Linked DNA regions of Homo sapiens. The protein of the gene in region 3 interacts with the protein of the main gene of each other region in a biochemical or structural test. Each region holds a gene or a part of one and is shown on either strand. Other genes may lie near its edges.

What was found.
Region 1: the proteins of SORCS2 (region 3) and NGFR interact in a biophysical measurement, tested with the Homo sapiens proteins (one study listed by IntAct).
Region 2: the proteins of SORCS2 (region 3) and NTF3 interact in a biophysical measurement, tested with the Homo sapiens proteins (one study listed by IntAct).

Annotation. Positions count from the first base shown.
Region 1 is NC_000017.11:49,505,293-49,512,292, forward strand, and holds part of NGFR (tumor necrosis factor receptor superfamily member 16 precursor), read left to right. Parts: intron 1-364; exon of another isoform or gene 365-1,006; coding exon 1,007-1,366; intron 1,367-5,119; coding exon 5,120-5,372; intron 5,373-5,524; exon of another isoform or gene 5,525-5,608; intron 5,609-5,690; exon of another isoform or gene 5,691-5,821; intron 5,822-6,599; coding exon 6,600-6,760; intron 6,761-7,000. UniProt on the Homo sapiens protein: Low affinity receptor which can bind to NGF, BDNF, NTF3, and NTF4. Forms a heterodimeric receptor with SORCS2 that binds the precursor forms of NGF, BDNF and NTF3 with high affinity, and has much lower affinity for mature NGF and BDNF.
Region 2 is NC_000012.12:5,426,077-5,436,861, reverse strand, and holds the start of NTF3 (neurotrophin-3 isoform 1 preproprotein), read right to left. Parts: upstream 4,755-10,785; 5' UTR 4,538-4,754; coding exon 4,520-4,537; intron 3,594-4,519; exon of another isoform or gene 3,530-3,593; intron 1-3,529. UniProt on the Homo sapiens protein: Seems to promote the survival of visceral and proprioceptive sensory neurons.
Region 3 is NC_000004.12:7,195,538-7,202,537, reverse strand, and holds part of SORCS2 (VPS10 domain-containing receptor SorCS2), read right to left. Parts: intron 1-7,000. UniProt on the Homo sapiens protein: The heterodimer formed by NGFR and SORCS2 functions as receptor for the precursor forms of NGF (proNGF) and BDNF (proBDNF). ProNGF and proBDNF binding both promote axon growth cone collapse (in vitro).

The DNA.
Region 1 (7,000 bases), on a different chromosome or scaffold from region 3:
CTCAGGTTCCTAAATCTATGCTCTTCCTGTCCTTGGAGCAAGGATAGGTCCTGCCAGATCCAGGGTGGCACAGAGTTCCCCACCCAAAGCTGGAAGGGGTGAAGAAGATCTGGCCCTGTTCCTTCCCCTCCCTGTACAAGGAGGCAAGGACCCTGGCGTGCCCAGCCTCCTTCTCCTTATTCTGGAGTGCACATCCAGTAATTAAGAAAACATGAGTGAAGAATGAGCTTGGACATCTCCCTTGCATCCTGGCCGAAAGGGCAGACGACGCATGTGCAGATCTCAAAAGGGTGATCATATAGTTGTGCAGCTTGTGTACTGCTCAACAATATCCATCTGAGAGAGTGAGTGTGGGCTAAGAGCCAGCTCTCTAGCTTCAGTGGCTCCTGCCTTACCTGAGCCCTCTTGCCTGCAGGTCCGTCCCCACCCTCAGGATCCAAGCCCTTCAGCAGCATGGGGGTAGTGCCATGGGTGGGAAATTCTGCTGTCTAACCCCGGTCACTCCCATTTAGGCTGCATCTGAGCCCACACCTGTGTGGAGAGGAACTGAAGGCAGATGAGGCAGGAGGCTCCCTAGGGGAAGGCCTACCTTGCCTGGACCGGGTTAGCAGCCCAGCTCTGGCCCGCGGGGAGGGCTGGGTGGGAACCACGTTCAGATTATTCCTTAATCATGCTGGGAACATAGTACAGGCCTGGGAACTCTCAAAGAGAATTTGCCAAGAAACTTAGCGGCACCAGCTGGGTTATGCCGGAAAGCCTCCCGGCCGGCCAGTGCTTCTGGAGCCTGGAGGATGCGGCTCCGGGCCTCCTCCCCCTTTCCCAGTTGGCTGCCACCAACTTTCACAGGCTAGGGGTCAGGGTCCCTTGGAAGAGGGTGGGAGCCGATGAGAAGGCTGAAGGAGGAAGTCAGCGTCCTGGCAGGCAATAGGGGAGGGAGAGACTCCAGCTCCTGCGTCCCGGGTGCCCAAAAGAGCAGACGACTAAATCTGGTGTCCGCTGCGCTCAGGCGTGACGTTCTCCGACGTGGTGAGCGCGACCGAGCCGTGCAAGCCGTGCACCGAGTGCGTGGGGCTCCAGAGCATGTCGGCGCCGTGCGTGGAGGCCGACGACGCCGTGTGCCGCTGCGCCTACGGCTACTACCAGGATGAGACGACTGGGCGCTGCGAGGCGTGCCGCGTGTGCGAGGCGGGCTCGGGCCTCGTGTTCTCCTGCCAGGACAAGCAGAACACCGTGTGCGAGGAGTGCCCCGACGGCACGTATTCCGACGAGGCCAACCACGTGGACCCGTGCCTGCCCTGCACCGTGTGCGAGGACACCGAGCGCCAGCTCCGCGAGTGCACACGCTGGGCCGACGCCGAGTGCGAGGGTGAGTGCGGTTCGGGGGGCGGGGGGAGTGGGGGTGCGGGGGTGGGCTGGGGGCATAAGGAAGGGCGCTCTCTGGAGGTCGACAAGGACCCTGCCTGGCCTGCTGGGGCAGCTTGGTGACCTTGAGGCAGCGTGCACCTTCCCTGAGCTTCAGTCCTTTCCTGGTAACCTAAGGGAGGAGGTCATTCCCCATCCTGTCTCAGCAAAGAACCCCTCTCTGTGTTACCTTCTTTGGGCTGTTTGGAAAGTGGGCGTTCTCAGCGTCCCAGGCCGCGGGTACTACATTGTAACTCATCCTCCGGGACGCATTTCTCTGTGGCTTCCCGCTAGTGATTAGCTGAACAGCAAGCAGCTCGAAGGTGGCCACTACCCCCAGGGCACAGAACGGGAGAGGTCTGATCCATGAGGCAGGCTTTCTGAACTGGAAGAGCAGCTTGAGGACCCTCAGGAGCTGGGACCCTTTGACTCTGAGCCCTGGTCTAGGTCCATGGTGGGTTTTGGCTCTGGGACCTGAGATGGAACCCACCCTGTCCTTGACTGACGTTAGGGAGTCCACTCCTGTCTCTGGGCCTCGGTTTCCTCACTGGTCATATGGCTGCCAGGGTTGTTGCGGGTTAGGGAATACAGTGGGGCTGGCCCACTTCAGCTTGCCCTGTCTAGGGGAGGGGTCAACCGTGTTCCGCAGTTTAGTGAAGGATGAGGGGCATGCAGGGAACACTAAGGAGGGGCTCTGTGGAAGAAGAAGGAGGGGAGGGGCAGACCTGGGGCTCAAAAGCCCGGGGACAAGGCAGTGCATGCTCGTGGCTGTCAGCTCCAGGGATGGATGGGAGCTGGGCGTGCCCACCTTAGCCAAGCACAGGCCCCAAGGAGATGGGGTGGTTCTTGGGATGGGAGAAGGAAGCCCCGTGGGAGCCAGGGCAGAGCTGTTTTGGTCTCTGGTTGGTGACGTCCGTCTCAGGGGAGACTGGTGGGCTTTTCCACTTCGGGGAGAGGCTGGCAGTGCCTTTACATCCTGTCCATCATCCTGTGGCCATGCACACATTGAGCTATTTCCCTTTGAGAACTAACCTGCATCCTCAGGTTGCCTTTACCCTGAGCAGGCAATATAGTACCTCCTTCAGTGAGCCCCCAGTTTGATGGGAGAGATAGCCTTCGCCCAGTCTAATGAGAGAGACGTGGTCCCAGCACTTAGTCCCCAGCTGAAGGAGAGATAGCTCTCACTTTAGAGATCCCCCATTCTGATGGAGGCAGCAGAGCTTCTGCCTCAGTTAGCACCCAGATCTCCTGCCCCTGGGGACCCTCCAGTCTGATAGGGGCTCCAACCCACACCTGCCTTCCAAGTCCTGCCATCTCTGGCTTTAGGAGCTCAGGATGGGGAGGGCTGTTACGCTGGGCTAAGGCCAGGTTGAGCTCAAAGCTTCCTGCCTTGGAGAAGGAATGAGGAGTAGGATGTGGTGGTTCTGTTGGCAATTGCCCTGGGCCAGGAGACAGGCAAGTGGCATCAGGCGCCAGGCAGAGCGCAGGAAGGGTTTCAGCAGCCAGGCATCAGGCAAGCAGGCAGCTCATTTCTGTAGGCAAGTCCAGACCAGCCAGCTGGGGGCGGGGCGGGGGGACTTGGGGGCGCTGCTAGAGCAAAGAAAGGTGGTGACTGTGGGAGGAGCAGGCTTTGTCTTTTGGGGCATTCACAGATTCCTCTCAGATACCAGCCCACTTTCCCAGCCACCCCGAAGGAGGAGGGTGCTCCTGAGGGAGTGTTCATACCAGACCCTGTTCCCCTTTCAGCTTCAGGCTCTGAAGGGTTAAATGTCAGCTCTGGGACAAGAGACCATTTCAGGAAATGGAATTTGATTCTTGGTTTTGTTGCCCCCTCCCCTCCAGCGTACCATACTTTCCCCGCATTTACTTACGTTTCAGGTGTCAACATGGTGACTCACCCACCCTCAGGGCAGAAGGGCTACCCGCTGCCCCAGTGAAATTCGGTTTGAATAGGGATAACCTGGTCCCTCCATGCAGCCCGGAAATGGCTGTCAGGACCTGCCAAGGGCTTAGTAGGTTGGAATGCTAGTGGACGTGGCCACATCTGGATCTCATCCCCCCGCCCCCGTCAGAGGGGATTGGAGAGATGAGGGCAGCTCCCCAAGAGTCAGTGCCGCCTCTGGTCTGGCCACGCCTTGCTACCCTCCCAGCCTTCCCCTACCATGCTCTGATCTCGGTGATGGTCTCATTCATTGGGCACCCGGACATGTACACTCCTTCACCCTCTGGCTTGGGGTCAGTCTGAGCTGAGCTGTGTCTCCAGCCTCTGGACTTGGGCTGCCCCCCAGCTTGCCCAGTCCCCTGGCAGAGCAAGAGAAGACCCTCCCCAGTCCAATGCTCCACCTGGGGCTGCCAGAAGACAGGGCTCTGTCTCCTTCACTACCTCTGGCCCCTCCCAGGACGGAGACGGGGAAGGGTGGTTTGGGTGACAGATGGCAGCCCCTCACTGCTGGCAGCCAGATGGATTCTAGATTCACATCTGGGGGCTTTGCCCCTCAGAAGGTGCTGAAAACGGGCCTTTGAAGCATTTCATCTTGAGTGGAAGAGGCCAGAAGATGGGTGGCAGCTTCTACTCCTGCTTGGGTGGGCAAAGTGGGGGCTGGGAGGGCAGAGCTGGGAGCCAGTTACCCTCCCCTTCACCCCATTGGCATGTCCTGCCTGCTTTCCCTCCCTGCCCCAGGCGTGGGAAGTGAGGAGGGACGGGGTAGGCAACATTGCCCAGACAAGTATCCCCAGGCCGTCCAGAGCCCACAACCCCTAGCACTGCCCCTGGCTGTGTGGCAGAATGGAAAATCCCACCCACTGGTGCCAGGAAGGGCTGGGTCCCCTGCCAGGGAGGCTGGCAATGCCCAGCTAGCATGAGAGGGTCTAGGTGGGTGGCAAGTCACAGTCTCCCCCCGCCAGCTGAGGCATTGAGCTGGACCTGCCTCATGGGCCCCTTCTCCACTGGCTCTCTGCTTCCTGACCAAGGAGGGTTGGGGCTACCTGATGCTGTCATCTCTGGTTGGCAGGATCAGGCTAGGTGGGAGCCAGGCAAGACAGGAAACAGAGGCTGGCCACTGTCCAAGGGCTGGCTGGAGGGAGGCAATCCAGCTGCCCCCGCACCCCTCCTTTCCACCCAAGCCTAGAGCCTGAGACATGAGGTCAAAAAGTCGGGGAGTGCTCTCAGGGAGGTGGTGTGGGGGAAGCACCTCTCTGACCAGACCTGTGTACCCTCTTCTTTCCTTAGGACAGGAGTGACTAGGGTCATCAAGGACAAGCTGGGGCCAGAGAGACATTTCCCAGAGTGACTCCAGCTCAAGGCCTCCCTGTGGTCAGGCTTCTTTGTGTGTTTGCTCCTAGATAGGCCTCTCTAGGTACTCAGGAGGTGGAATAGAATTCCAGGACCATAGCCCCAGATGGAAGGGAGCTTAGAGACTGTCTCTCTTAATAGCCCCATTAGATAAATAAGGAAATCAAGGTTCTGAGAGAAAAGGGGGCTGGGCCAGAGTCACCCAGCAAGTCAGTGGCGAAGCTGAAGGAGATGCAGCTCTGTGGGCCCACAGGCCTTGCTCTTTAGCATCATGACATCATGCACGCAATCCCAGCTGTGCATAACAGCTGGGCACAAGAGCACCTGGAGCCAGGGCGGGGACACAGGAAGAACACGGCAGTGGGTTAGAGCTAAAAGGGAGGAGTGGGGGAAGTGGGTCCTCACTCCTGTGGCCTTTTCTCCCAGAGATCCCTGGCCGTTGGATTACACGGTCCACACCCCCAGAGGGCTCGGACAGCACAGCCCCCAGCACCCAGGAGCCTGAGGCACCTCCAGAACAAGACCTCATAGCCAGCACGGTGGCAGGTGTGGTGACCACAGTGATGGGCAGCTCCCAGCCCGTGGTGACCCGAGGCACCACCGACAACCTCATCCCTGTCTATTGCTCCATCCTGGCTGCTGTGGTTGTGGGCCTTGTGGCCTACATAGCCTTCAAGAGGTAAGAGAGGGCACGGTGGCGACAGAGAGGGGAGATGTTTGCCCTCAAGGAAGACTTTGCTGTGACCTTGACCTGAAAACATACACACCCTTTTAACTCAACCCCAAACCAAGCTCATCCTCACTCATCATCTGCCGCCCCACTCCAGGGTGCAGCAGGTCAGCAGGAGGTGAGGGGAGAGGATCCACCTGTCCTGTCCTGTCCTCTCCTGCCCTGTCCTGGCTCCAGCCCCTCCCACTCCCATGCCGCACCACTCCCTGACTCCCCACCCCCAACTGCTTGTGTCCTCATCCCCAACCTCCTTCACCCCACAGTCACCTGCGTGTGCATATGTCTCTTCCCCTTCGCTTGTCACACTGGGAATGCTGTGGCACCCACATCCAGGAATCCAGGATGTGCACGAACTCCCAGAAGGCATTTTAAAGCTTTAAATGCATTTTCCATTCTTTCTAAAAAAAAAAAAAAAAAATCATCAAAGTAACACATCCGTGTTTAGGAAAATGCAAACAAGACCAATATCTTTCAAAGCAAAAAGTAAAAGCCCCCTTTTATCTCCCCAAATCCTACTTCTCTCCTTATTGGAATCTGTTTGAAATGGATCCTTCCCAACTATTTTCTGTGTGTCTTTTTTTATAAACATGTATATAAACCTTTTATAATTACATGTAAACATGGAGGGCTTTTTAGGCATCAGTGAGATCACATTGTACATATTCTACAGCTTACTTTTTTCACTCAGTCTCCCTCAGGAGACCTTTCCTCAGGAATGTAGATTAGCTGATCATTTGTAACCACTCATTCAATAGTATGGATGGATGGTAATTTATTTAGCCAGTCCCCATTGATGGACATTTGTTTTTTTTTTTTTTCCAGTTTTTTGTTATTGCTTATAATTGCAGAGGAAATCCTTTTATATGTCACTGCCCACATGTGGGAGTATTTTAGAAGGGTAGATTGGGAGAAGAGGAGTTCCTGAGCAGTCACTTTTGCTGCACTGCTCATTCCAGGAACATTTACTGAACACTTACAGAGGGCCCCTCTGCCCTCATGGAGCTTTCAGGGTAGGTGGGGGCAGATGTGCAAAGAGGAGCCTTAGATGGTGGGGTGGCGGTTATAATTGGGCACCCGCCATGCCCCTGGCCCTCACACGGCAGAGCACAGATACTCAGCTGCATCGGCCACTACAGCCCCTCGCCCCCTGAAACCTGGCCTGTCCTCTGGCTCCAGGTGGAACAGCTGCAAGCAGAACAAGCAAGGAGCCAACAGCCGGCCAGTGAACCAGACGCCCCCACCAGAGGGAGAAAAACTCCACAGCGACAGTGGCATCTCCGTGGACAGCCAGAGCCTGCATGACCAGCAGCCCCACACGCAGACAGCCTCGGGCCAGGGTGAGCAGCGGCCCGCTGGGGAGCTGAGGCGGAGCTGAGGCTGAGGAAACAGAAGCAATTAAGATTAGACTCCAGGAAGGACTGTCGGGGGGGCGGCAGGGCTGGCTCAGCGGTGCCCCTGTAGATGGATGGAGAGGCTGGCCGAGGGGAATGGGAGGGAGAGGTCCTCTCTAGAGGAACGACTTGGGAAATGGAGGCTTTTACAAGTTGGAGCATCCAGACTCATCAAGCTAATTGTCC
Region 2 (10,785 bases), on a different chromosome or scaffold from region 3:
TACCTTTCCTCTGAATAGCTCAAAGATCTTAAAGATTTCCATCATCTATAATCTAGGTTTGGCTGCCTCCAGCTTCTGGATGAGTAAACTGAGGCAGTTATAAAAAGTTTTATTTACACAATGAGTGAGCAGTAGAGATGCTGTGGGCATCATGATTACTGATTAAGTTGCATTGTAAAGAGAAAGGGGTCCAGATCCTATTTTCACAATGACCTACATACGTGCTAGCACCTGTATTTAATTACATTTCATCTTTGTATGGCTGTATACAACTAAACACATCAAGTTTTGATGGGGGAAAAGAGGAGTGAACTTTCCTTCTCCTTGAGTCATTATATTGCCCCTTTACAAAAAGAGAAACAGAAGAGTTATAGAGATTAAAAATGTCCCCAAAGTCACACTTTTCCCAAGTGGTAGAACTGGACTAGAACTAAGACATTCCCAATCCAGTCTTGCACTTCACCACCCTGCTCTCAGAAATATCTGCCCCGGATCTTCTGACCAATAGTCAAGCCCTATATAAACTATCTCTTACACAGATGAGTTTCCCTCTCAAAAATAAGGTAGACCCTTAAAATGGCACAGCTGTAACTTCATGAATTCAAAAATGTCATGAGTCAAATAAAGTCCTCCCAAACATATGCCCAACGGTGGTCAGAACCTAATCAAATGGGGATCCCCATCGTCTGCTCCAGACAGGCAGATGTGTGCATCACAAAAGCACAGCCTTCACTCTGTTCCTACCCAGTTGCCTCACCAGCCATCTCAGGGTATGGACCCGATCAACGACACCTTTGTCTCATTCCCCAAAGTCTACGGCCCTTCTTTTGTGTACACCTTTTTTCGCTAAAGATGCACATCTGAGTATCCAAGACAATTTTTATCCTTCCCCAGACACACAGAATTCCTGCAAAAACACATACTGGCACCCCCTTCACAAGAGCCAGAATATCCACCCCTCCTATCCACCTCGCTAGTTTTCTCCCAGTTACGTTACTCCAGGCCAAAGTGCATGTGCACGCACCTGCATGCATACCCACCCCCCCAACACACACTCAGGTTAGCTTTACACTCGTAGCCCAGAAAACATCAAAGATGAACAAACACTCCCAGTCCATCTCTTCCTTGATCATGACTTCACCATTCTCCAGCTCCACATAACAGGTCTCATTCCAGCTATGAAGGAGGCTCTGTGTACTCTTAGAAACTCAATCCTTAGAGGGATCTGGACCTGCATTCTGACCTGAAGTGCAGCACCCTCCAATTCCCAGCCCACACCCCACACAAGAAACAACAACACCGTCCAGCTCCCTTCCCAATACACAAAAGTCTACATCATCCCTCTCTTTATGCCCCACTTTTTACAAAACCAGAGATATATTTCAAGTCAGCTTCCCTTTGGCCCCCAAGATCCATAAACATCTCTAGAAACTGAATTATAGACCTTGAAGAAACCTCAACAAGCGTCGAGCTCTGTCTATTTCTGGCAAAATTGCATCAGTTTTACTGAGCCTGGAGAAGGAATTTTTCCAGGGCAGTGTGCCATGCCCCAGTACCCAGCAATGGGCTGAGCATCCAGTAGGCACTCCATTAGCTTTAATTGATTATCAATATGAACTGGTGATAGTGAATTCTCCTATTACATAAGAAACCCATTACAAAACATTATACAACATGCATCCCTGACACCAGGCACAGATAGTGCATTCCTCTACTTACTTCAGTCTTATGCACACATCTCTTCCTGTTCCCACCCAGTGCCAATGCACAAGGACTTTTCCCCTTAAATGTACATCCCTCATTCTAAGCCTCCTCCAATTCTCTTCTCTCTGGGGAGGAAGGAGGGGGGAGGCAAACACCAACACCAACCCGGTGTCCTTCCCTGCAAATGCTTTGTCTTTCCATAAAGAGGATCTGAGCTCACACTTTTCTACCCCCTACATGCCCCAGTGCCATTCCAGCCAAATTTCCCAGTGCACCCTCATGAAGTTCAAACCCCGTGCTCCTCAGATAATCTTCCCCCACCCCCCACACACATCCCTTTGGTAATCCTCAGGCGCCCAACCTTCCACATGCATCCACCTTTCCCTCACACACACAGCCGCCCTCCTACACCACACCCACTCCATGTGTTTGTGCAGGCATGCACAAGCCATCTGTCTTCAACAGGCTGCACCTCTCCTCCTGCTCTGACACCCTTCATAGGCACAGATTTCGCATTAGCTACACCTATGTTCCTGCAAGCTCTTGTCTCCCGCTAAGCACACAGATGCCCATCCGACAGACTCCCCAGAAACACACACCTCCCAGGCACCAAAGAGGGATAGGACTCCAGCTCTTTTGCCACCTTCCCCTACACACACACACACACACACACACACACACACACTTTGGAAAAACATCCCCATCCCTCCCTGACCACTCACTCAATGGTCACAATCTCACTCCATAGATAAGCATATCCCATTCACACACAACCAAACCCTCTAAGTCCAGCTACACTCCAGTCCTCACCAACACAAAATCCCACACACTCTCCCTAGGGGAAATACCCCAGACTTTCTATCTCCCTTCAACACTGTCTACCGGAGCCTGCATTATTTTCCAACCCCCTTACCTCCTAACACGATACCTAAGTCTGTGTGTTTGCGCCCAAGGCAGAGGGGGTTGGAGTTTATCCTCCACATTCTACCTTTCAGCTTTCTTTGTGTGACATGTCAAAAAGGAATTGAGGGCAGGCGGGAGGCAGGCTGAGTACGCTGGAGAACTTCTGAGTGTTGTGAAAACAGGACCTCTGGAAAAGTCTCCTCTATGTTACAACTTTCTCCCATCCTGACGTTTAGGACAGAGCGCTTCCATGTTCTCCTCGTTCGCTGTTTTGCGGGGTAGGAGCGGGCACCTCTTTATTTAAAAAGCAGGTCGCTCAGTGCACTCCATAATCAGCTGAGTTACAAACATCAGGCTCCAGGAGAAACACCCACCCCTTCCAGGCTCCCCTCCCCTCTCAGCAGGCCCTCGCCCCCGCCTCTTCACACACATAAACAAGTCCACAGGCGCACAGTCTCCCGAGCTCTCTAGCTCTGAGCCCGGCGCTCCCGGGAGCAACCTCCATTCGGACTCAGAACCTGCCGCCCGCCGCCAGAGGCCGAGGCCAGACGATCTTTTCGGTGTTTCCCCCACCGGCAATCCCACCCCAGCCTCGATTCCAGCAAAAGGGATCCTTTCTAGTCCACAGCCCCGACACCGTCGGACGCAAGGGTCTCAGTGCCGTGCATCTGAAGCGCAGACGACGAATGAACGCAGCAGCCAAACTCCCGCAAAGAAGCAGCGCCTCCTGGACGCGCACCCACTCCCGCGGAGAGCAACAAGCAGAATCCTACTCCCCCATCCCATGCCCTCGGCCCTCGCCCCTCCTGTCCCTAACCTTCAACTCCCAAGCGTCCCAAATTTCATCAGGAGCATCCACCACTGAGTAAAGCTCTGGGGCAATGGGACAGTTCGGTCCGTCGTGGGACCTTTAAACTCCGACCTGGCTGGCTGCGCGGGTGCCCAGGTCTCCCGGCCTCCCACGCCACCGCTCAAAGTCCGAGAACAGGCTGGACGATACCGCAAGGAGATCCCCTGGGATGGCCGGGCCCGGGTGCCCGCCGCTCCCCGGAGGGGTCCCAGATGTGCGGGCTGCGTACGGAGCTCCAACATCTGCGCAAAGGCCCAGGGTGGGGTGGCCACCGGGTGGGCGCTGGCCAAGAGGAGCCCGGGGCGCGAGGTCTTTTCTGAAAAAACCCTTTCGGGGAACTCCAACGCAGGTACGCGGCGCGTGGCAGTGAGTCCCAACTCCCAAAACTGGAACGCGAGGTTCCGGGTCCTGAGCTGCGCGTCCCCTCCCCCCAGCCCACGCCCGGGCCAGAGTGGTGCTGGGGCGAGCTGAGAATCAGGCTCAGCGGCCGGCAGAGTGCAGGGCGTGTGCAGGGGAGCTGCCGCGGCACCTCCCCGCCCGGAGTTCTGTCTGCCACCCCCTTTTGTTATAGGATGCGCTAGGAGCTTTCTCGGAGGAGCAGGCGGGTCGGTTGGGAGTGGTGGGTGGTTGATTCTGTTGAATCTCTTTCCTGCTCTTTCGTCGTCCCCATTTCCCCTCTTCTGCCCCCACCCTTTCCAATCCAGGTCCCTTAAACCTGATCACTTTCCCAGATTGAGGGAAGCTTCTTGGGCAGCCGAGGGACAAGAGGGGAGGAGGTGGAGAAGGGTGTCCGTGTCTGTGTGTGTGTGTGTGTGTGTGTGTGTGTGTGTGTGTGTGTGTGTGTGTGTAGCGGGGTGGCTGCGGTTGCGCTTCGGCCTGAGCAGATCCCAGCGCAAACTTTGGGGAAGACACAAGCCCGGGAAAGTGAGTGAGCGCGGCGCGATGGGGGTGGGGCGGGATGCGGATCTGGGGCCCCCCGCACCAGTCCACTGGAAAATCCCTCCCCACGTGGACCCCCATCCCCAAACCTGCCCACCCAAGGTGCCCGCCGCCTCCCCTTACCGTGGCAAAAGTAACCATGGCATCCGTGTGGCCGTTTCCAGGGACGTCGACATGAAGAGAAAGGTGGACGCGAGCTCGGTCATTCAAAGTCTCCCCCACCCCGCCGCAGCCACTACCCAGCAGGGGAAAAAGGAGAGGAAGAAAGAAAGGAGAGAGAAGAAAGTAGTTGCGCCGGGCTGCGTCGCGGGGCGGTGCGCGGAGCTGTTCGGAAGGGAGAGGAGCTTCAACTCTGAGTCCCGTGAACAGAATCTGCGCGGTTATAACCAGCCAACCCGGCCAGATGGCTCCGCGCTCAGCGCCTTAACCCCTTCCGCGCCGCGCCGCCCTCCCCCGCCGGCCCGCGCCGCGCCGCGCGCGCCCGCGCCCCAGAGCCCCCCCCCCGCCCTCACTTCGGGACCCGTGGCGGGGAAGGGGTCATTTCTCCTGGCCCCTCTTGAAAAACAAAACCAAACCAAACAACAACAGCAACAAAAACTTCCAAATCTGTAGTATTCTTCAGTAACCCCCACCCTTGAGTTCCCTTTTAGAGATCCAGGAAAAAACGAAACGTTAAATGTATCGTAACAGGTTACATGTTAGTGTCTTCAGCCTTTCTTAGTGGTTCTTTTTCTTGAAATTTTTCTTTTTGATCTTTTTTCTTTCAAGATTTTCTTTACAAGGCATCAGGGCCTTTTCCTGCCTTTTTCCTCAGGAGGATCAGGTCTGAGGCGTAAACTCCTCCTCCAAACCTTAGACCCTTCCAGCTCCAGATCTCTCCCCACCCCCTACCAAGCCCACCCGCCACTCCTCCCCCCACCCCACAGCACGAACACGCCCAAGGACAATCGCTCCCCGGCGAACTCCCCGCTCCCGGGGACCCGCACCCAGGACGCTGTGTCGGCGGTCAAGGGAGGTCAAGGTAGAGGGGCGTGGGGGCGGGTGGTCCGAGGGACTAGGGAGGGGCTGTGTGTGCGCGCGCGTGTTTGCGGGAGCTTGAGTGTGGAAGGGAGAGGGAGATGGATCGCAGCCTCCCATTTCACCCATCCTCCAACTTCTAAACCCCTTCCTTCCAAACTAGGATGGGGCCCTGCAGCTAATCACTCGCCCAGCACCCACCAGTCTGCACGCGGGGACAGCGCGAGAAGCAGGAAAGGCGAGCAACAAACAAACCTGTTCGTGGCGCCCCGAAAGTAATGACGCTCACTTCCCCACCGGTGGATACATTCGAGGAGAGGATAGGGGGAGGGGGTCAAAATCTCTTATTTGGAGATAATTTTAGCTGCCCGTTAGACCTCACTTGCTCCGAGCCGTTCTCTCTAAATTTACCAAGTTAAGTCATCTTGATTTCGCCCATTTGCCATCGAGAGAAGGGGGAAAAATACCACTTAGTGATCAACGAGAAATCGAGAGCCCGGAAGCAGAGTTTTGCCCACTTGCCCGCTTCCCGAGTCCTTGCGTGGTGGACCTCCGCTCCAAGCCCCTCATCCCTTCCTCCCTGCCACTTCAGCCGCTCCTCACATCATCTCCTGCCAGGACCTTTTGACTCACGCGCGACTGGGAAGGGCAGCGAGTATCCCGTTTCCTCCCTGCCCTGTCGTTCGAGGTGTCTAATAAGCAAGCCGTTCCGCGTTTCGGTTAGGGCCCAGGTTCAAAAAATCCAAATACCTTGAAATTGCTTGAGAATTTGGTTAAACATCGGAACTGCACCCACCAGTTCAGGACCAACCGGCCGCAGAGAGTAGCTGGGGGGTTGGATGGGGAGGTGGGAAGGGAGGGGGGAGTCTGGGGGCTGCGTACTAGATAGATTGTACCTGCCTCATCATTATCCTGGCTGATGGGGGTTGCCACATCGAAAACCGCCAGAAGCGCCCACCGAGGCCCAGGGGCGTCACCTCCTGCGGTCCCTCGCAAGGGTAGGGTAGTCCTTCAGTGGCTCCCCTCGTGCCAAAATATCGACGTCTTCCTCAGGGCCAGAAGAGGCTGCCGAGTCGTTCCCTCCACCCAGCCACACAGCACCATGAAGGTTTGGATTGGGCGTGCTCTGTCGGGTTCTGCTTTTCTCCCTCTCATCTGGCCCGCCTCCCTGCCCTCCCCCACTTCCCGCACTTGCCCCCCTCCTCCAGCTTCTCGCCCTGGTCAAAGGAGGGATTCAGGCCCCAGTTTCAGATCCACTGGCAGAGTTCTTTTCTCAAGCTCCAGGTCCTCTGGGAACCTGAAGATTGCAAGGAAAGAGGTGGTTGGCTCCTGCTGCAGCAGGGAAGGGGTTAAATACATGTGCGGGCTGATCTGCAGGCAGCTCCCAGGTCCCTGGCAGTCTGGAGGGAGGAGGGGAAGGGGGGCAAACAAACTTGAAAAATCAGAAGAAAGGAAGGAGAAGAAAAGGCAGCAAGCAGTGCGTTTAGGACTTGGATTTGTTCTGCAGATGCCTTGCACTGGCTGGCCGCGTCATTTTGCCGGGACTTTCGGGGATCCCAGAGTTTGTCTTATTTCCAACTCCAAGGGGTTTTGTCCTAAGCTGGTGGGTCTGTCTTTGCTTGCAATCAACAGGCCTTGTAATATGAGAGGTGACACCTTAATCTTGCCAAATATGTGCTGTGTCTTTGTGGAGAGAGGGGAGGAGGGACTGAGGGAAGGAGGGAGGAAGAGGGAGAGACCCAGACAGGAGCAGAGGGTGAAAGATGCACTTTTTCTCAGAAGGATTGGTTTCCCAAAGGGAGAGCCTTAGCCCTTTTCTGAGTAGAAGACCTCTTTCAGACAGTCTACCTTGAGCACCGCCAACTGCCTTTTCCTTTACTGTTTTTCTTTAGACTTCAGACCTAAAGATTTCTTCCCTCTAAGACTAGGGACTGACCCCCCAGCTCGCTGTTGTGGCTTCCAAGGGAGTGGCAAGGTGCTGAATGAAGAAGGTGGGAAGAAAAAAAGAATTAGAAAGGTGTATTTTTAAGAAGACAGAATAAAAAGATCATTCTCTACTATGTAGAGCCATTTTTAAACTAGAATATTGTGACTTCTAAGTAAATCCGTGTTTCTAAATAGAGATTTTTCTTTTCTATAGAAATACCATTGGTATGGATAGCAAAAGCAAAGATCAGGACTGGAAAGTAAGCTGGCTGCGAGCTTGTGCCCTGTACATAGGCCTGGTTAAGGAAGCATCCAGGATGAGATCTTTTAGGATTCACTAGGTAGGTGCTCCTCTCCAAGTTGACTTCGTGGCCATGACTTTGGCTGCCCATCTGTCGACTGTATTTTTAGGTTGCTGAACTTTCTTCTTCTCCCTGCTGCATCTGAGAGTAAGGCCCTGACTCCTGGAAGTGATTTCTGAGAGCAGGAATCAGATCTTGTTTTTGAAAACCCCCTTTAAAACTCTCTCCTAAAGCAAATTTCCAGAGCGTGCCTTCTGGTTACCCTTATCTTTTGCAATAGCACCACTCTGTGGTTGGAACACTGAACAGAAACAAAACGGCAACGTGGGATTGAATTTTGCCTTTATCTTGTGAAAACAGCACTTATCTCCCTATGTTTGAGCTCAGTGGACTGAATGCTGGTGGTGGGGGCTCAGCGTGTGGTGAGGGAGGGGGTCTTGTGCAGTGGCAGTATGTGGTTAATTCATTGTGACATGTTGACCCAGGAAATGAGAGAAGTGGACCGAATGGCCTCCAAGGACCCTTTCCGTGTCAAAGACAAGCTTGTTTTTTTTCCCCATGATCGTGTAGCTAGCCTTGAATGTCTGTCCTCTTCCACTGCTTTTCTTTTTCTCTCTTTTGAGGTTACTAAAATAAACACCACACTTCTCACTGATCCTGAAGTATTTGCAAGTTGCATCTTCTGCTGCTGGAGGGCGCTGTGGGGAGGTCTCGCCCTACCCCCTCCATCCCCACCCCCATCCACCCAGACAGCTGCTAGAGCTGATGGAGTCTGGAAGTCTTCGTTTTTCAAACAATTAAAGTGAATGCAAAAGGTGTTTGCACAGGGACTGGGAGCTTAAGGGTCAGGAAAGGCGGCTTCATGCTACCTTTGTGCCTCCGCACTTGAAAGATTCCTGGCTGCCCACCCGTTTCTATATACTGGCAACAGCATTATTCACCAAGAGCTACAGGCTGTCAAGCCATATAGCAATTCCTCTCAGATGACCTGGAGTCACCTGTGAGACATTCTTCTTTTCTTTCAATTCGCATGCACTTGTCCACAGAAACTGAGTGGCTTGTTTATGTTTATTTAACAAGACCAGGTCTTCCCCCAAATTTCTGTCATTTTAAGAAAGCACAGCTTTGCTCTAAGGACTAGCATTGATCTCTCTACACAGAATACAGACATCAGAGATAAACTTCTATCAGCCCCTATGTCCCCCACTCTGCATTTAATAACTGAGGAAACTCAGAATAACAAAAAACAAAAACAAAAACATAATGACAGACCACGACCTAGAATTTACTGCCAGAGTAGATTTTGGTGCCTGAGAAAAGCAGGTTCCCCTCTACCTTCTCCACTCAGTAGCCATGTGCTTTTGTACAGGTTTCTTAACTTCTTAGAACCCATCTGCAATTGGTGAAGACAACACCAATCTCATAGAAGTAATATGAGGACCAAAGGAACTAATTAATTTAAAACATTCAACACAGTGCCTGGCACAATGTGAATGCCAGTCCCGATCTGCTAGTCCTTACACAGGAAACACTGTCACACCACTGGGGGAATGAGCTATCTTTAGAAAGAAGCTTGGCTCTGGAATGGCCTGTGTATTATTATTTGTATGCCACTACACATTTCATTAATGTAATTTTATGGATGTATATTTTCCCCTTTGGACAAATACAGAAATAAATCAGCAGAATGAAGTAGTGGACATATTTAGAATTTATATAGCTTCCCAACGTGGACCTCAATGTGCATGAAAGACAGAATTGAAGGATTTCAAAATCTCGTCTTATTCATTCTCTGCCTTTCACCCAGAACCACCTCATCATTTAAAAGGAAATTCCACCATATCCTTCAACTCTTAACAGATTGCCTGGTATATTATTGGTTTGTTGTTATTGCTAATTATGTTCTAGGGCTTACATTGAACAATATAATGAATTGCATTGAACAACGGTGAATCAACTTATTCTGTGACATGGCATACATATTCATAATTACGTTTCAAGAAATTACCCGTAATGATAGAGGGAAGGTATGTATTCCTACCACACAGGTGGATGTAGAAATCATAATAAAGTCTCCTATTTCACCAGTCATGACATGAATTCCTAACCACCCTATAAATTAACTTTATGCTGCACCAAACTCCACTCATAAAAAAATGACATTAAGGTTTCCTAGGTAACTAATGCATTTCCAAAGGGAATAGGTCTCAGGAGACAAAGAGGGCAGGGAAAAGGGTGGGGAGGGGAAGTGAAGAAAAGAGAAAAAAACATCCGATGAGACCCACGTGACATAAACAAAATATTTCACGGGGAAGAACCCATAAAGTTTTACTGCCGGGGTCTGACACAGATATGGCATAGCCATTAATTCCATCTTTGGATGATAAAACACTCGATAGACTATCCCTCTCATCACGTATGCTGGCATTTCATATTTCAGATCCAGTTCTACAAATCTTGAGAGGGATTTGACCCTTCCATTCATCTGCTAAGCTGCGTCCACTCAGCAGCCAGCTGACTCTTGTGCCCTCCACCAAATGTTGAGATGAATGTGAAAAACAGGGTTGATTTGCATGTTTCAGAATATACAGATGCTTTTGATCACTGTGGACTCTTAAAATTTTGGAGTGGATCTGTTAGCCTTAGCAGAAGGCTGGGGCCTGAGAATTGAATTATGGGAATGGAGGTTTGGTTTGCAACCCCTCAACTCAGTGGCATTTTCACTGCAGCTTTCTTCATTTGGAGGAGGGTCTGGATGCAAAAGAACATCTTGAATGCTTTGGGCGAAAATGGCAAGTTGTAGGTGGAGCTTAAGGCTGAAATTTACACTGTAGGAACAGAGAAATTCTGACACGCAATGCAATCCAGAGAATTATCCTGGGTTAGAGACAGGGAGATAGGGAAATGAGATCCAGAGTCTTGTCACTGTTTTGTGAGCTCAGGGAAGTAACTAAACTTTTCAGTTTCTTGGTTTTACCATGTGTAAAGGTACTTAACCTCATTTTCTTTCATGACTGTGAATATAAATAAGAAAACAAAGAACACACTAATGTGAATACAGTTAGAAATTTTGTATTATCTGATTTCTTCTATTTTCAGTAGCCCCAGAGTGACATCTGTGAGTGAAGTCTCCAACTGGTTACA
Region 3 (7,000 bases):
ATTACTAAGGAAGGAGAGTGCTGTTATTTTAAGATCTTCGAGCTGGTGTGAGAAGAAACTAATTAAATGATTGTAATTTTCTGTGCAAATACAGTAACTGACTGCTATAGAAATGCAAAATAAGAAGGAGATTTTCCACCTCAAAAGGACACTGGAGTTTTACCTTTTATTCCAGTCTTCCAAGGAGAGTCCTCACTCACTCAAGTATCCCTATTCCATTTTTTTAATGACAAATGGAGCTTAATTGGAATAGAGGTGACAAGCACCATAGGCCTTCTGGGAAGCGGTCCCGAGTCATGAGGCTGAATGGAAAAGACGTTGCTGTTGCCCTCAGCGGGCTGCATATCAATCAGCAGTGAGCAAATTGCCTAAGTCTGTGTTTTACAGCCTTGCAGAGCAGGTCAGGGATGGTCTGTGCTTGTGGGAACCTGCTGGGAGCGGGGAGAGAGGTACAGGGCATTCCCCACCCCCACCACCCACTTAGACTGACAGCCCCATGTCTGCACTTCTTCTACACCCAGAATCCAAGCTCACATCCAGGACGGCGCTTTCCAAGAAAAAGCAGGATGTGAACCAATGCAGAACACATGCCTTCACCTTTCCAAAGCTACAGACGGAGACCTTGCCCTCCCGGTGGCCAGAGCCAGGGATCTCTGCTCCCTGGACTTCCAAAAGGGGAGGACGTCGGTCAGGAACAGCAGCTGCAGCACAGCCAGGCTTCTCAGGTCATCGGCATCCCTGCAATCCACAGAGCACCCACCCAAACTAGCGACTAAGGAGGGGCGAGGACAAAGTGGGCCATTCGTAAGAACCTATAAATAACTCATCCTTTGGAGTCTGAAAAAAGAAAGACAAGGCGGCCCCAAAAGAGGAGGCAACGTACAAGCTTCCCCTCCATTTCTTCCTGCACCGGAAAAGGCACAGGGGTTCTCGGCAGCGTCCCAGCTGATTCGCCCGTCACTCCAGTCTGCTCTCCATCGAATCATCTGCACAAGTCTTAGCCTGACTCTGAAAAATCACCATAAAATAAAGTAACGGCTACGCCGAGAGGCCCACGCAAGCTCTGGGCTGCCTTCTCATCTGAGGGGCGTGCCGAGGAATGAGGCTAATTTATGACCTCTTTAGAATACTCTCAGGAACCTTCACGCAACTACAAATTAAATCGCCCTTTATTAAAGTAAAAGTGGATTTGTGAAATGTGCTCAGCAACTTTATTAACAGGGCTGTCTCTATGACTTCGAGCCAGGCTTCTTGATCAACGCACGAGTCTCTCCTGTGCCCATGAGCGCTCCAGGCTGCTCCAGCCCCTAGGCCTCTCCTTCAGCCTTAATATTCTCACCATTCCAACCTCCTCCTCAGCCCGGGACTCTACTCATCCTGCAGAGCAGCTCCATCTTCACCTCCTCCAGGAAATCTTCCCAGACTTCCCCAGCGCAGATTCACACGGCACCTAGAACGCGCTGGGGTGAATTCCTGTCCAGACCAAACATTTCACCCGCGCAGGGGCCAAGTTTGACTTGGCCCCTCACTGAATCCTCAGCAGCTAACAGCGCTAGGCACACAGAGAAGCTCGGTAAAGAGCTGAGGCCAACAGCCACCACGAGCCGGGCCTTGAGCTAGTTTCAAGAAGACAGTGAAGATGCAAGTGAGGTCGACACTCTTAGGAAATAAGATGAAGGAGGACATTGGTGGCTCTGCTGGCCAGGCCCCCATCCATGGAGTGTGTGGCCCCAGCACTGGCCTGACACACAGGAACCATGATCCTCATTTGATAAATGAGGAAAAAGGCTCAGAGAGGTTCAGTCCTCATCCAAGCGTGAACAGCAGGCACGGGTGAGACCAGCTGTGCCTGAAGCTCAACTCTCATGGAAATCTGCCTCCTTCATTACTACTTGAAAGAGGCTGCGGTGAGGTTCTTGGGCTGGGCATTCCAAAGTCTCTTCTACTTCATTCCCGGTCTCCATTCATATAAATAAAATACAAATAAATTAGCAAATGTGTACTAAGCATAAACAACGTCCGGGTTGGTAGTGACCTTGGAGATGGTCTGGTCCTGACGCTCACCTTACAGATGGGGAAACTGAGGCCTGGGGAAGACTGGCTACATGGGTGGCCAGCATGATGGGAAGGGAGGAGTGAGTGCCCAGCTGAGCGCTGCAGGGAGAGAACCCAGGGCTCCCCAGGGAGGAGAGGGAAGGCAGCACTAATGTGTTGGAGGGCAGGGGAGGGACCCCGGGGTCAGAGCCAGAGGCCATGTGGAACAGCATGGAGTGCACCCCTGGGTCCGGCTGGGAATCTGGGCTCACAACCACAACTCTGGACCCCTCAGTCGGCCCCTGGTGGTCCCGCTTCCCACCCCAAACCGAAAGTCCCTGCAGTGGCCTGGAGCATGGACATGGAGCCTCCTTTTGAGCACTTCCAGCGAGGGGGGATCAGGGCCTCCAGAGCAGCACGAGAGCCCATCCACGCTGCTGCCCTGCACGCGGGGCAACCGAAGACAATCCAGCCTCCCCCACCTCTGCGCTTCCCCACTGTGCACCAGAGGGGTGGACTTCCAGCCCAAAGCCAGTTTCTATCCCATAACCCCTCCTGCTCGCATTCCCCGGGAGTGTCGGTCCCTCAGGCAAGGACCCAGCAAGGCAGGGCACCTTAGGTCAGGTGAACTGATTTTGGGGAGTGGGAGAGTGGGTTTGGGAGCTTCTCAGGGGTCCTCAGAGGCAACAGGAACAGACCAGCACTTGAGGGGGTGCAGAGAGAGGACAGAACATGGGGGATCCACAGTCAAGGTCTCATCTGTTGAACTTGGATGAGAATACAAACGAAGGCAGAGTTTGTATTCTGCCTTCCCAGAATGGCCCGCCCCACCCAGGCCAGGGAAGCGGGTCTACGCAGCTCCCCATCCCAGAGCGGCCCGCCCCACCCAGGCCACAGAGTGAGTCTGTGAAGGCCAGACCACAGCAACAGCCTCCCTCGGACCCCAGCCAGGAAACACCATGGGCAGGAGCCCTGCTCAGGGAGCCCCTGCTTCACAGCACAGGCAATGGCCACGGGCAGCCCCTCCACCAGGCTCACCTGCCCTCTACACCTCAGAGATCTCTGCTGCTCCCCTCAGCCACACCTCCCCAGCCTTGCCAGTCATCCTCATCCTCCTCCACCTGTGGCCCATGTGACCCCCTCCCCAGGTGAACTGAGCTTCCCCTGCCCCACCTTGCTCTCCCTGCACTGTGCCTCCACACCGGCCCCACTTCGCTCCTCCTGAATTGCATCCCTGGGGCTCTCTGCCCCCACCCCGCTTTGGACCACAAGCACTTCAAGAGAAGGAGCCCATCCCACTGGCTCCAGGCCCTTCCTCTGCACCCCAGGGCTGACACCCGAAACACGATGACGAAACTAGGGCCCAGGTCGAGAGAGAGCACGGCTCCCCATCCTCCCGGCTCACAGGAGAATCAGAAGGATGGGGACTTCCGCAAAGTGCACCCAGCAGACCCCATGGGTAAGCACCCAGGAAACAAGGCCTGCCGGCTGCTTTGGAGGCAAATATGAGGCCACGTGGAGGGTTCTGGGCACAACACCCTCCCCTTCCTGCTGGGAGCTCTCAACCCATGCTCTGAGTGTCGAGTGACTGGGGCAAGGGCAGAAGCCCTGGGTCACCGTGCGAGCCTGTGGTTTGCACGCCGAGACTTCCCTAGACTCAGCCCGCCCTCTGCATGTCCCCATGTGCTGCCGCCTCTCTCCACACAGAGTCCCCGGCTCCCTCATGGTTCTTCATCCAGCTGCCAGGCCCAGGGTCCCGGACAGGCTTGCCCCACCAGCAGCCAGCTCCTGACAGCAAGTATGACAGGCACTCACCCCTGGTCACCACATCCCTTGACCTCTGCCTGCTTCTGTCTCTCTCCAGGTGGCCGCTGGACACCCTTGGTGATGAGCTATCACGACAGAGATGCACTTCCTCTGGACGGAGGCCCAGCACTCACAGGCCGACCAGCCACAGCTCAGCCACCGGGGGCCACACCTCAGGCTCCAATCCAGCCTCCACCCCAAATGCTGGGAGGCCCACACCATGTGGGCCTAGAATTCCAGAGTAACGCACAGCAAGTTCAGCATACTTAAATACAAAACCCCAAGCTTGGAGCCACCAAGCTGTCCTCTAAGGTGGACTGGAGTTGACATCACAAAACCACAAGCATCGGACACGAGGCTTCAAGTCAGCTTTGTCGTGGATTTGAACCCGTTCATTTAAGAACTCACATGGTCTCTGCACTCTGGAGGCTGGCCTGGAGCCTAGAAGCCCAGCACCACCCAGGACAGAGAGGCCTGCAGAGCCGGGGCAGCCACGTCCTGTGCGCCCAGCCACGCACCTCTCTCCAGCCCACTCTCCTCTCCCTCAGCCCCCTCCACAGCCTTGGTCCAAGCCTCCCTCTGGCAGCAGCTCCTCCCTGAGCCTCTGTCCAGATGTCTCACCCTGCAGCCCTCACCAGCCCCATCCCCCACAGTGCCTCCAGGGCTGTTTCTTGATATCATTCTCTGAGCTCCTGCTGTGGGCCAGGCTCTGATCTGAGCATTTGACATGGAAGATCTCACTTCACCTGCACCACAAACCTATGAGCCTTTACTTCTCCCATTTTCAAGATATGGTCACTGAAGTCCAGAGAATTTAGTCCATTTGACCTGGATCCCAGAGCCAGAGAGTGGCAGGGCCAGGATACAGACCCGGGCAGGCTGCCTCTGAAGCTCAATTGCAATGTCCACCACTCGTCACTGCGACACGGACTCTTCAGCCTCACATCTGGGGTCCATCGGGAGCTGACTTTTTAATCTATTTTTTCCAAACTTCTTTTCTATGGTTTGTCTCCATGCACAATGCATTCACTCTCACTTTATATAACACACACATACCTTCAAAATTCCTACCCCCCAGACCTTGCTCAAGTTGGAATGTTGTTTTCTGGAATGTTCTCCATCTCCTATACACTCCACCTACTCATTCTTTAGGTCAGCCTTGATGCCCTCTTCCATGCAGTCTTCCCTGATTTCCCCATCAGCATTATCGGGGGAGGGTGACACTTGCCCCCTCATATCCTAGCTGTTCATGTCCATCTGCTGTCTCCCACTAGACTACTCTAAGATCCACTTCTAAACTCAGGAGATGCAAAGGAAGCTGAGACCCCTTCCCTGCTATTAGGGTCTGAACTGTGTCCCCCCACCAAAATCCATACGTTGAAGTCCTTAGCACTTCAAAATGTGACTGTATTTGGAAGCAGGGCCTTTAAAGAGGTAACTAAGTTAAAATGAGGTGGTTAGAATAAGCCCTGATCCAATATGACTGGTGCCCTTACAAGAAATGGAGATGAGGACACAGACACACACAGAGGGAAGACCATGTGGAGACATGGGAGAAGGTGGCATCTGCGAGCCCAGGAGAGAGGCCGCAGAAGGAATCAACCTGGACAATACCTTGATCTCTGACTTCCAGCTTCCAGGACTGCAAGAAAATACATTTCTGTTGCTTCAGCCACATAGTCTGTGGCACTTTGCCCTGGCAGCCCTAGAAAGAGAATTCACCTGCCCTCCAGGAACTCGACACCTGGCAGATGTCATGATGGAATTCTCACGCAAACTTGGGGAGAGGCCATGGGTAGTATAGTAGAAGCTGCCACATACCATTAGTTCTTGACCTCTTAACTCAGAGAAACAAGTTTCAGAAGCTCTTCTGATGTGTAGCTCTAGCTCTCTGGGTATAAAATATACACAAATATCGGGTTCATCAAGATTGCAGAACAGAGAGTGTGGGTAGTCTGCTCAGAATCACCTCTGCATTCAACTGCCTTGGATACCACTAACCATGTAGGCGCAGCACAGAGCAGATTTGGAAAATGGGCAGAGGGAGGGGAGGGAGAGGGAAGGGGGAGGGGAGGGGAAGGGAGGGCAGGGGAGGGAGGTGCTGATCTTCTCGGGGAACAATGACAGAGGTGAACAAACTGGACCAGGCTGCAGGAAGCTCACGTTCAAGTCAAATGATACATTCAGCTTCAAAGTTGAGGATCAAGTGCCTTGTGGGAAGGAGCCCAGGTGAGCTGTGCTTAAAATAAGCACAATAAGCCCACGATTTCCCAGAAACATTAAGAACAGGACGGGGCACAGCACATTCCCCATAGGAATAACATGAAACCGCAACCCCAGAGGCTGAGAGCCACACTCTGTAATATTTATCCACCTTCAAATAGCACCGCTGCCTCCAAGGGCAGCTCCGGAGATGCAAAACCCAGAGCTGTGTGTGCACAGCCCACTCTAGATCCATAAAAACGCAATACCTCTTGGTTTCAATGAAACATTAATTTCACACATAACAATTTGTTTCTACAGCTAAACGTCAGACAGGGAGGCGGTGTTTGAACTTCCAAGCAAGTCCCCTTCTCTATCTCCATGGGAGCAGGCAGAACCAAGCCGTTGGAAGGAAAACCCACATAATGTTAAACGGAGCTGTAGCAATGAGGGCTTAAATCCTGGGACTGCTTCTTGTGGGATGCTCTCAAAAGCCATGTTTTAAAGTCCATCTCCCTCATCAAATGCTCCTTTTAATTTTGAAGAACACCTGATATGGTAAAGTAAACACGCTCTCTGTTCATGTTGACCACATCTGCAGAGGGCGGCAAGCAAGTTGAGGAAAGAAAACGTTAAGAAGACTGCTCAGCAAACCAGCCGTGTGAGTTTCTGTCTGGTTGTAGCTTTCAAAGATGGTGCTTTCAAGCAGACGTGAAACCCACTGCCAAATCCTGGCTGAAATCTTTAGTCCTGTGGTTGCAAGATGAGACTAGAGGGAGCAGAGTACATTTCTAAGACACGGCGTGTGCTGAGAAAACAATACTACGCATGCAACAAGCACTAAGGCAATGATTTTTTCTTTTAAAGCAGTTTTACTTAGTTAGCTCAAGATAACAGCCTTCTTGCCTCTTCTGAGTTTTCTCAGGCAAGGTCAAACTCCTGCAGCCTCGCCTGCTCC